2 separate regions of the Homo sapiens genome follow, and region 1 is linked to region 2. The links come from fine-mapping of genetic effects on gene expression. A gene starts in region 2. The other region holds a variant in brackets. All regions are shown on one strand. Distances are from middle to middle. Region 1 overlaps NR2C2 (nuclear receptor subfamily 2 group C member 2). Region 2 holds the start of RBSN (rabenosyn, RAB effector).

Region 1 (5,257 bases), 110 kb after region 2:
TTCTCTATTTTCTGTGACCAATAAAAGGATATGCTTTCCAAGGTCTTTTTTAAAGTATCAGACACTAAAGGTATACCTCAGACACAGATTTCAAGAAAGGAGATGTTCTCTATGACAGAATGTCATTACTCTGTGGCAAGACATACCGTAAGAAATCATTTTGGCACAACACTTCCACATAAGGTATGGATCTTTTGCAAGGACATCATCCTTCCTCAATTTTCTCCTTCTTAATAACTCCTCCTGTCAACCGTTTTTATCATAAGTAAGTCTAGTCTCACTTATTCTAACATTAATTCCATTTAACATTTATTCCAGCTGACTCTACATTTCATCTACAAAACAATTGTATCTTCTTAGTACCCTTATTTAAGTATGTACTTACTTAAGAAGTATGTGACTTGTCATATCATCTTTGGTAGTTATTCCTAAGCATTTACATGAAATACACATTATTTCATAATAGGCTGCTTTCCTTTTATTTCTCCTGAATATAATTATTATTATATATTGATTTTTGTAAGTTATTTGCATATGAATGCTTTTATTTTCTATGAGTATCACCTTGGTACAGTAAAAGGGTCTTTAAAAAAATACTGTTTAAAAAGGGGGCACTGAGTCTGAAGGAATTGGAAACCCCTAAGAGGAAGGTTCTCACAGTATGTACTCGATGCATACCTGCTGAATTAATAACTGATCTAGTTAATGGTGCTACTTCTTGCATATGAAGTTATGTGACTGTTAAAAAACTGTTGGGAAAAAAAAGAAAAACCCTTAGAAGACACACTTTGACCCAGATAGCTTTTAATTTCAAATTCTACTTCTAGTCTACAGAGATACTCCCACATATGAGCCCAAGGAGGCATATATAAAGATGTCCATCACTGTACTATTTATGCTTGAGAAAATCTGGAAAAAACTTAAATGTGCATCTAATTGGAAAATACTTCAATGTGCAAACTTAAATGCACATCTTAGAGGAGTAGCTAAATAAATATAGCTCTAATCTATAAAATATGAGAGTAAAAAGGAATTATGTGTATCTCTAAATCTGAGACAGTTAAAAGAATCAGCTTTCAGAACATCATAACCAGTGTGATTCCATTTAGTTTAAATTTTAAAAACCTATATATTTCTATAGCTACATAAACATGGATGTAAATACTTAACAAAAATTCTGGAAGAAAACATAAACTAAAAATAAATTAAGCCAATTTCAAAGAATCAGTATCATAAAGATCAGATCCTCTGATTACATTGTGATTAAATTAAAACGTAACAAAAAGGTAATCACAGATGTAAAACCTAGAGCTATAAAACTTTTAGTGAAAACACAGGAGAAAAATGTGACCTTGGATTAGGCGAAGATTTTAAAATATGACATTAAAAGCATGATTCATAAAAATTTAAAACAACCACTATCAAAATAAAAAAATCTATTCTTCAAGAGACTCTGCCAAGATAATGAAAATATAAGCCATAGATTGGGAGAAAAACATTTGCAAACCATATAGCTCATACAGGACATGTATCTTATCCAGAATATATAAAGAACTCCCAAAACTCAAGAAAAGAAATAACTCAATTTTAATAATAGGCAAAAGATTTGATAAAACACTTCATCAAAGATGATGTATGGATGGCAAATAATCACATGAAAAGATGTTCAACATTATTAGTCATCAGAGAAATGCAAATTAAAATTACAATTAAGAGCTAGTACACATCTATTAGAATGCCTAAGAGTAAAAAGACTGACAATATTAAGAGTTGGCAAGGATGTAGGGCAACTAGAACTCTCCTGCACTGCAAGCAGGAATATGAACTCATACAATGACTTTGGAAAACAATTTGGCAGTCTCTTTAAAAAAAAAAACCACCATATGATCCAGCAATTCCACTCCTAGCTATCTACCCAAGAAAAAGAAAAGCATATGTTCTCACAAAGACATACACAAATGTTCACAGCAACTTTAGTTGTAATAGTCAAAAACTGGAAGTAACCCAAATGTCCATCAACAGGTGAATGGATTAAGCATATCTATACAATGGATACAACGTAAAAAGGAATTAAATACTGATATATGCAACAATACGGATGAGTCTCAAATAACTTCGCTAAATGAAAGAAGCAAGACAAAAAAAGTGGACACATGATTTCTTTAATAGAAAATTCTAGAAAACGCAAATCCATCTAAAACAATTAGAAGATCAGTGGTTGCCTAGGGATAGATGTGGCTAGAGCTATACTCAGAAGACAATATACAGCCTAATGCTTATATTAGAAAAGAAGAAAGGCTGAGATATCAATAAGCTGAGTATCTATCCTAAAAATTTATAAAAAGAATAGCAAAATAGGTGCAAAGAAAGTAGAAGGAAGAAAATAATAAAGACAAATTAATCAGTGATAAAACAACTCTGGTGAAAATGACCAGGGAAAAAAAGAGAGATGACAAATAATACTAGGATTGCAAAGGAGACTATAACTGGAGATACTTCAAACATTAAAAATAGAAAACAAGGCCAGGCATGGTGGCTCACGCCTGTAATCCCAGCACTTTGGGAGGCTGAGGCAGGTGGATCACCTGAGGTCGGGAGTTCGAGACCAGCCTGACCAACATGGAGAAATCCCATCTCTACTAAAAATACAAAATTAGC[C/T]AGGCGTGGTGGCTCATGCCTGTAATCCCAGCTACTCGGGAGGCTGAGGCAGGAGAACTGCTTGAACCCGGGAGGTGGAGGTTGCAGTGAGCCAAGATCGCGCCATTGCACTCCAACCTTGGCAACAGGAGTGAAACTCCATCTCAAAAATAAAAAAATATAATAATAAAAAAATACAAAACAAGGATGTTCTAAAAACTAGATGCCAATAAATTTGAAAACTCAGACAAAATGAACAAATTCTTTGAAGAAGGTACAACTTATTAAAACTGAGTCAATCACAACTAAAAAATCCGAATAGTCTTAACCATTAAAGAAATTCTATCAGTAGTTAAAAATTTTTCCAGGCACCAACAGTTTTACTGGTGTGTTCTATAAGCATTTAAGGACCAAATAATTCTCATTTTATATACATTATTATAGGAGGGAGGAGAAAAGGGAACCTTCTCCCAACTCATTTTATGAGGCTAGCATAAATTTAAGAAAAATTAAAAGTTAATCTCACTCATGAACACAGATGCAAAATCCCTAAACAAAATGTTAGCAAACTAAGAATGTGTGTGTGTGTGTGTGTGTGTGTGTGTGTGTATAAAGAGTATAATCCAGATTAACCTATCAAGTTGAGATTAACTGCAGAATACAAGATGGGTTTAATATTACAAAGTCAAGCTAATTCACATTACCTGATCAAAAAAGAGAAATCATATGATCATCTCAGATCATAAAAAAAAAGAGCATCTGACAATCGAACTCATGGAGATAGAGAATGGAATGATGGTTATCCGAGGCTAGGAAGGGTAGTGGCGGGGATGGTTAATGGGTACAAAATATAGTTAGATACAATAAATAAGATCTAATATTTGATAGCACTACAGCGTAATTACAGTCCGCAATAAGTTGTACATTTCAGTATAACTGAGGGAGTACAACTGGAATGTTCATAACACAAAGAAATGATGAATGCTTGAGGTAATGGATATCCCATTTACCCTGATGTAATTATTATGCATTGTATACTTGTACCAAAATATCTCATGCACCCTACAAATATATACACCTACTATGTATTCACAAAATTAAAAATTAAAAAAATTTTTAAAAATAGCATTTGATAAAATTCAGTATTTGCTGAATATAACAACTTTTATTCCAATGTCCTTAATCGAATAAAGGCTCATAGCAAATTGTTGAAATCATTCCTTTTAAGATGAGGAACAAGGCAAGGATGCCTGCTATCAACACTTCCATTCAACACTGTACTGGAGCTCTCTGCCAGAATAAGTCAAGACAAAAACATAAGGATTAGAAAGAAAAAGATAAGACTGTCATTAAATCATAGATAACATAAAAATCTAAATGAATTTATTAGAATTCGTAAGAGCAAGATTGTTAAAAAAATCTATAAACAAAATCATTTACATTTCTATATACCAGTGAGAGAAAATAAAATTTCAATAAGATATTTATAAATAGCATCATAGAACATAAAACATTGGGAAATAAAGACGTGCTTAATTTTTGCAGAAAAAAAATCAAAGAAAACTTAAATAAATTGAAAGATTTTCCATGATGGATCGGAAGACTCAATATGATGAAGAGATCAACTCTCTCTAAATTGATTCATTTAAGTATTTGCAATTCCAACTCTGAAAAGTCAGCAGTCAGCAGGTTTTTGTTTCCATATGTGTATAACCCTAACAAGCTAATTTAAAAATTTAGAATGGGCACAGTGGCTCACAACTGCTTGAGCCCAGGAGTTGCAGACCACTCTGGGCAACATAGCAAGAACCCATCTCTACAATACTAAGTAAGTAAATAAATAGCTGGGTATGGTGGCGCACACCTGTAGTCCTAGCTACTTGGAAGGGTGAGGTGGAAGGACTGCTTGAGCCCAAGAGTGAGGCTGCAGTGAGCTACAACCCTGTCGTTGTACTATAGCCTGGGCGACAGTGTGATGTTGATATTAAGTGTCAACCTGATTGGACTGAAGGATGTAAAGTATTATTCCTGGGTGTGTTTGTGAGGGTGTTGCCAAACGAGATTAACATTTGAGTCAGTGGACTAGGAGAGGCAGACCCACCCTCAATCTGAGAAAGCACCATCTAGTTAGCTGCCAGCCCAGCTAGGATAAAAGCGTACAGAGGAACATGGAAGGACTAGACTGCCTATGTCTTCTGGCCTCCATCTTTCTCCTGTGCTGGATGCTTCCTGCCCTCGAACATCGAACTCCAAGTTTTTCAGCTTTCAGACTCTTGGACCTATACCAGTGGCCTGCCAGGGGCTCTCAGGCCTTTGGCCACCGACTGAAGGCTGCACTGTTGGCCTCCCTACTTTTGAGGACTTGGGACTCGGACTGACTTCCTTGCTCCTCAGCTTGCAGATGGCCTACTGTGGGACTTCACCTTGTGATCATGTGAATCAATACTCTTTTTTTTTTTTTTTTTTTTTGAGACAGAGCCTCGCTCTGTCGCCCAGGATGGAGTGCAGTGGCGGGATCTCGGCTAACTGCAAGCTCCACCTCCTGGGTTCATGCCATTCTCCTGCCTCAGTCTCCCACGTAGCTGGGAGTACAGGCGCCCACCACCACACCTGGCTAATT
Region 2 (5,507 bases):
GGAAATAGTCATAGAGTTGCCTAAAGGATTAAAGAAAGTACTTTTGATGAAGTGTGAAGCATATAGGAAGGTCTTTGTCATTATCATTAACAGTATCGGCCAGGCGCGGTGGCTCACGCCTGTAATCCGAGCACTTTGGGAGGCCGAGGCGGATGGATCACGAGGTCAGGAGATTGAGACCATCCTGGCTAACACAGTGAAACCCTGTCCCTACTAAAAATACAAAAAATTAGCCGGGCGTGGTGGCGGGTGCCTGTAGTCCCAGCTACTCGGGAGGCTGAGGCAGGAGAATGGCATAAACCTGGGAGGCGGAGCTTGCAGTGAGCTGAGATCACGCCACTGCACTCCAGCCTGGGGGACAGAGTGAGACTCTGCCTCAAAAAAAAAAAAAAAAAAAAAAGAAAAAAGAAAAAAAAGAAACAATATCAAGAGCAGTGCCCAATCCACTGTGATTTCCAGAATTAACTTACAAGTTGAGGCCACATAGCTATTGCTTTTTTGAGCAAATGAAATGATGAATATGATATTTTTTTCTTTTCTTTTCTTTCTTTTTTTTTTTTTTTTTTGAGGTGGAGTTTCACTTTGTTGCCCAGGCTGGAGTGCAGTGGGACAATCTTGGCTCCCTGCAAACTCTGCCTCCTGGGTTCAAGCAATTCTTCTGCCTCAACCTCCTGAGTAGCTGGGATTACAGGCGAGCGACACCACACTCGACTAATGTTTTATATGTTTGGTAGAGACAGAGTTTCACCATGTTGGCCAGGCTGGTCTTGAACTCCTGACCTCAAGTTATCTGCCCACCTCGGCCTCCCAAAGTGCTGGGATTACAGGCGTGAGCCACCGCGCCCGACCAAATATGTTTTTTGTAAATGATAAAATGACAAGCAAAAATCATGATGGTTTAATAAACGTTCATTGCCCTACCCAAAACATAGTCCTGCCTGTAAGTGTGGCTCGTTTTGGGACCTCGGTGGCTTCAGACTTTCAAAAGGGTGGTTTTACTCCCAAAGTCCTGGCTTTTGGGACCTAAGGCAGAAGCTAGTGATGGAGACGGGGAGCTTGGCATGTTGCTTTGCTTCTGACAGGTTAGGAAGCCTCTTCCTTGTCTCCATCAGTAAACAAAGGGAAGTCATTATTCGCTCCTGCAGATGTTGTAACGTTAAAAAAAAATTGGCCATCAGATTGAGAGAAAAGGCTAAGTCACTGGAGCCAATTTCTTTTGTACAGATGAGAGAACTCAGGCGAAGAAAGGGGAAAGGACCTGCTCAAAGCCACAAAGTAACGTACAGCCAGGGCTAGAACCCAGATCTCTAGACCCCTAGTTCACTGCCCTTTCACTGGTGATTGCTTTCCAAAAACTCAATGCTCTCCAAGTCCGGAGCCCCATGTCCTTAAATGGAAGGTGATGGAGGCTCAGTGCTCCTGTCCAGAGACCAGGTGGGGAAGACTTTTTGGAGGCAGGGAAAGTGAGATGGGCAAAGCCAATATGCAGGACACCCTCCTACCTACCTACCTACCGTGCAATTACCTCAATCTTCACAACACTGTGAAGCGGAGACTATCATTATCATCCCCATTTTACTTCTGTAAAAGGGGGCCAGTAACACTGCAGGGATGTAAACGGAGGCCCAGGATCGTCCCATCGTCCCATCGTTCTCTGCAGCTCTTGCTCCTAGAGGCTGGCTATTGCTAAGGTCCAGAACGTGTGCAGGGCACAAAGCAAATAGGTCTCCGGGACTGGGATGAGGTTTTGCCTCTCTATACCCCGTGGTACCCAGCACAGCGTAGGCACGGGGTAGGTCCTGGCTGATCAATCGTCCTGCCTTTTGAAAATGCCATCTTTTCCACAGGCTTGGCCATGCTGTACACCCCGGGATACACCTTCTCATACCAAGTCTCCACTCTCATGTGGTTCTATTCTTGGACTTTCCATCGCCTCCACGTCCCCTGAATATTTTTTCTGTCTCTAGCTCTCAGGAACTTTGATTCCTTGGCTGCCTTATTCTTTGTGCACTTTGGTCAAGAGCCAAAGATCTACTGGTCTCAGCTTTCCCACCTGTACAAGGCGGTGCAGAGCCATTGGCTGGCTTTGACGCGCTATTAGTTCGAATTCGGGACGTAAGAACCGCACAAAATTACCGAGCCCCACTTTCTCTCCGCTCCCCACCATCCCCTCCCTCGTTCGGAAAGCGCCTGCGCAGAAGCCGCCGGCCCGCCCTCCACTATTCGAATCCGTATCCGCCCTTTTCGCGCCCTCGAAGACTCGGCGCTCGACAGGCGTCTACCAGCTTGTCTTCCGGTTTCGTCGCCGCCGCAGGCGCACCTGCCGAGTTCCGAGCGACCGATGGAGATGGCGGCTGCGGCTGAGTGACGGACGGTGGAGGCCCAGAGCCCGGGCCTGAAGGGGGGGACAAACCTGGGTGCCCGCAGGAGCCCGGCAGGGTACATACAGAGGGTCAGGCCCAGTCTGGGGGGCGGGGACACGACTCCTCCAGAACGGAGACGGGCGGGCCGTGTGTGGTTGTGGTGGGTGTGACGTGAGAGGTGGGAGATGGGGCTTTCAGGCCGTGCGTTTCGCTTGTGTGTGCCTTTGATGATTGGGCTCTGTGTGGTTGTGCGGTTACGCGGGGCGTATACACTTGGGTTTGGTTGTGCAGCTGTGGGTGGAGTGGGTGGGTGCTTGTCTCCCGAGCGGTTGTGTTTGATTCTCTGGTTGTGTAAAGCTGAAGCGTTTGTATTCTGAGTTCGTGTGGAGATGTTCGGAGTGTTTTGTGTGGTGTCTGTGCGATGTGTGACGTTGTCATGTCTGCTTCACGGGATTGAGTCGTTCGTGTTGTGTGTGGTCATGCGATGTGTGTATAATCATGTTAGTTATGTGGGTTGTGGTTGCGATCGTGAGGCCGGGTTGAGTGCGGCTGTGGGATGTGTCGTCGATGCGGCATGTGGCGGGGTGACATTCATGCTGGATGTACGGCTGCAGAACATGTAGCTATATTTATTTTTTTTATTTTTATTTTTTTTACTTTTTACGTGATTTAGAGTGCGAGGGGCTTGCTTATGTGTTCAGTTATGGTTGTGGGGTCCAATTCGGTGGTTGTGTTAGATTTCTTTATGGTGTATGCTTAGTTATATGATTTTGGAGTTCATTCATTTCTTCGTTCATTCATGGAGCTTTATTGTGCTGCTTCATTGTGTGTGCCAGGTACTGTGCTAAACCCTGGGGAGACGGCGAAGTGGAAAACATATAGAGTCTGTGCCCTCCCAGATTTTACAGTCTTACTTGGTCACTTCACGTATGTACCTGCGGTTATAAATTGAGATGAGTGCTGTGAAGGAGAAGTCCATTCTGATGCTCTGAGTAAGAGGCATTTCTTTTGAGGAAGTGAGGTTTGGGTTTGGGCTGAGGCGTGAAGGGTGGTTGTGTGGCATGGATGTGGTGGGCTTTGTGTTATTTGTGGTCGTTAGGGGTGAGTGCATGGGAAGAAAGGGAGCTGTCAGAGTCAGCATCAGATGAACCACTGGCTGGGGAGGGAACAGGCCAGACCTAGGGCTGCTATATTCCAGTGGAAAAGTTATGAAGTCACTGGGTTTCTTAACTAGAGGGAAAAAATAGGGACCTGGTGTCTCATTTGTTTATTTTCTGAGTTGCTGCCACCCTTCAGCTTTGAGGACCAGGCAGTCCCTCCTCGGTGGTCTTCTACAGTCCATCCAAAGCTGAGGGTCACACATCTCCCCTCACTATATACTGTGGCTTGTATCCCCAGGTTCTTGGGGAGAAATTTCTCTGCTTTTGTGGAATGGTTTTGTCTCAATTTCTCTTGTGACTGGGTGTCTTGATGAGGTGACATTGGAAGTGACTTTGCCATGAGCCAGTAAGAAAGAGAATGTAACTTATTAAGCCCTGAAGTGTTTAGGCCCCAAATCAATTTATTTATTTATTTATTTATTTATTTACTTTTTTGAGATGGAGTTTCGCTCTTGTTGCCCAGGCTGGAGTGCAATGGCATGATCTCGGCTCACTGCAACTTCCGCCTCCTGGGTTCAAGCAGTTCTCCTGCCTCAGTACCCCCACTAGCTGGGATTACAGGCGCCTACCACCACACCCGGCAAATTTTTGTATTTTTAGTAGAGATAGGGTTTCACCATATTGGCCAGGCTGGTCTCGAACTCCTGACCTCAGGTGATCCGCCTGCCTTGGCCTCCCAAAGTGCTGGGATTACAGGCTTGAGCCACCATGCCTGGCCAGCCTTTTATTTTTGAAGCAGTGAGAACATCAGGTTTGCTACTTAACTGTCACTTAATGGCTTATAAGATCTGTCAGGGTGCAGTGGCTCACATCTGTAATCTCAGCAGTTTGGGGGGGCTCAGGCAGGAGGATTGCCTGAGGCCAGGAGTTAGAGACCTGCCTGGGAAACATAGCAAGAACCTGTCTCTATAAATAATTTAAAAACTAGCTGGGTGTGGTGGCATACTCCTGTAGTCCCAGCTTCTTAGGAGGCTGAGGCAGGAGGATCACTTGAACCGAGAAGGTCGAGGCTGTTGTGAGCAATTATAGCTCACTGGGTGACAGAGCAAGATGCTGTCTCTTAAAAAGGAAAATATAGTACGCCCATTAGAGATAAGTGCTCTACAAATATAAAATAGATTTTTTCTTTTTGACTAGTAGGTTTCTATTGTTTCTCTTTAACTGATGTTAGGATTTTTGATTTTTTGTATGTTTTTATGGCAGATACTATATCTTTTTCATCTTTGCATTTCTAACACAGGTGTCTTACAAGTATCAAGAACTTACTATATGTGGTTGAATAAACAATCAAGGTAAAGAGCATCAAGTAAAAACTTCTGCTTGTTGATAAGTACTTCAGACATTCCCCCAGTGGCTGAAGTGGCATATGAATTATGAAGTTGGATCATTTGGAATGAATGTAAGAGAATTGCCAAGGTATTGTTTGCTTATTTCAAGAATCTGTGCTTCCCACTTCATTGAGTTTTTGTTCTCCAGTGATGTTTTCACATTTTAGGTTTTGCAGCTTGCTTGGTCTAAGGATTTGAGAAAGAGTTTGTTTTCTCAAACTTGCACTGAATAAACATTAAGTACCCCATTGAACTGTGAAAAGAATGAAGAAAATCCTCAATTGCTACCAGTTTGCCTGAATTGGCTTTTTTCCCTTCTTCTTTTCTTTCTTAGGGCTCCTCCTACTCCAGAGAGGAAACCTCATCCAGGGCCATGAAGCCACTTCCTCACCATCTGTGTGCTGCTTAAGCTAATGCTGCGGGAACCATGGTTCCTTGGGAGGAATCAAGCTGACTCTTGGCATGAGATTCCTGCCTTCCTAGGGTTGAGAGCGGCACTGCCATGGCTTCTCTGGACGACCCAGGGGAAGTGAGGGAGGGCTTCCTCTGCCCTCTGTGCCTGAAGGATCTGCAGTCTTTCTATCAGCTTCACTCACATTACGAGGAAGAACACTCAGGGGAAGACCGTGATGTCAAAGGGCAAATTAAAAGTAAGA

Evidence for each region.
Region 1: its variant is fine-mapped to the expression of RBSN in whole blood (TOPMed, PIP above 0.99).

What each region holds. Positions count from the first base shown.
Region 1 is chr3:14,981,452-14,986,708 of GRCh38, reverse strand. The region is part of intron 1 of NR2C2 (nuclear receptor subfamily 2 group C member 2); the gene reads right to left. Among named protein-coding and RNA genes, the nearest start is that of FGD5-AS1, 36 kb to the right of the region's middle. The variant C/T (reference allele first, on the strand shown) is at 2,659.
Region 2 is chr3:15,095,967-15,101,473 of GRCh38, reverse strand. RBSN (rabenosyn, RAB effector) reads left to right here and starts at 2,326. Exons shown (of 14, transcript NM_022340.4): 1 at 2,326-2,439; 2 at 3,200-3,355; 3 at 4,764-4,939; 4 at 5,186-5,501. The coding sequence starts at 5,354. RefSeq lists enhancers at 2,239-2,368, 2,257-3,121 and a silencer at 3,459-3,538.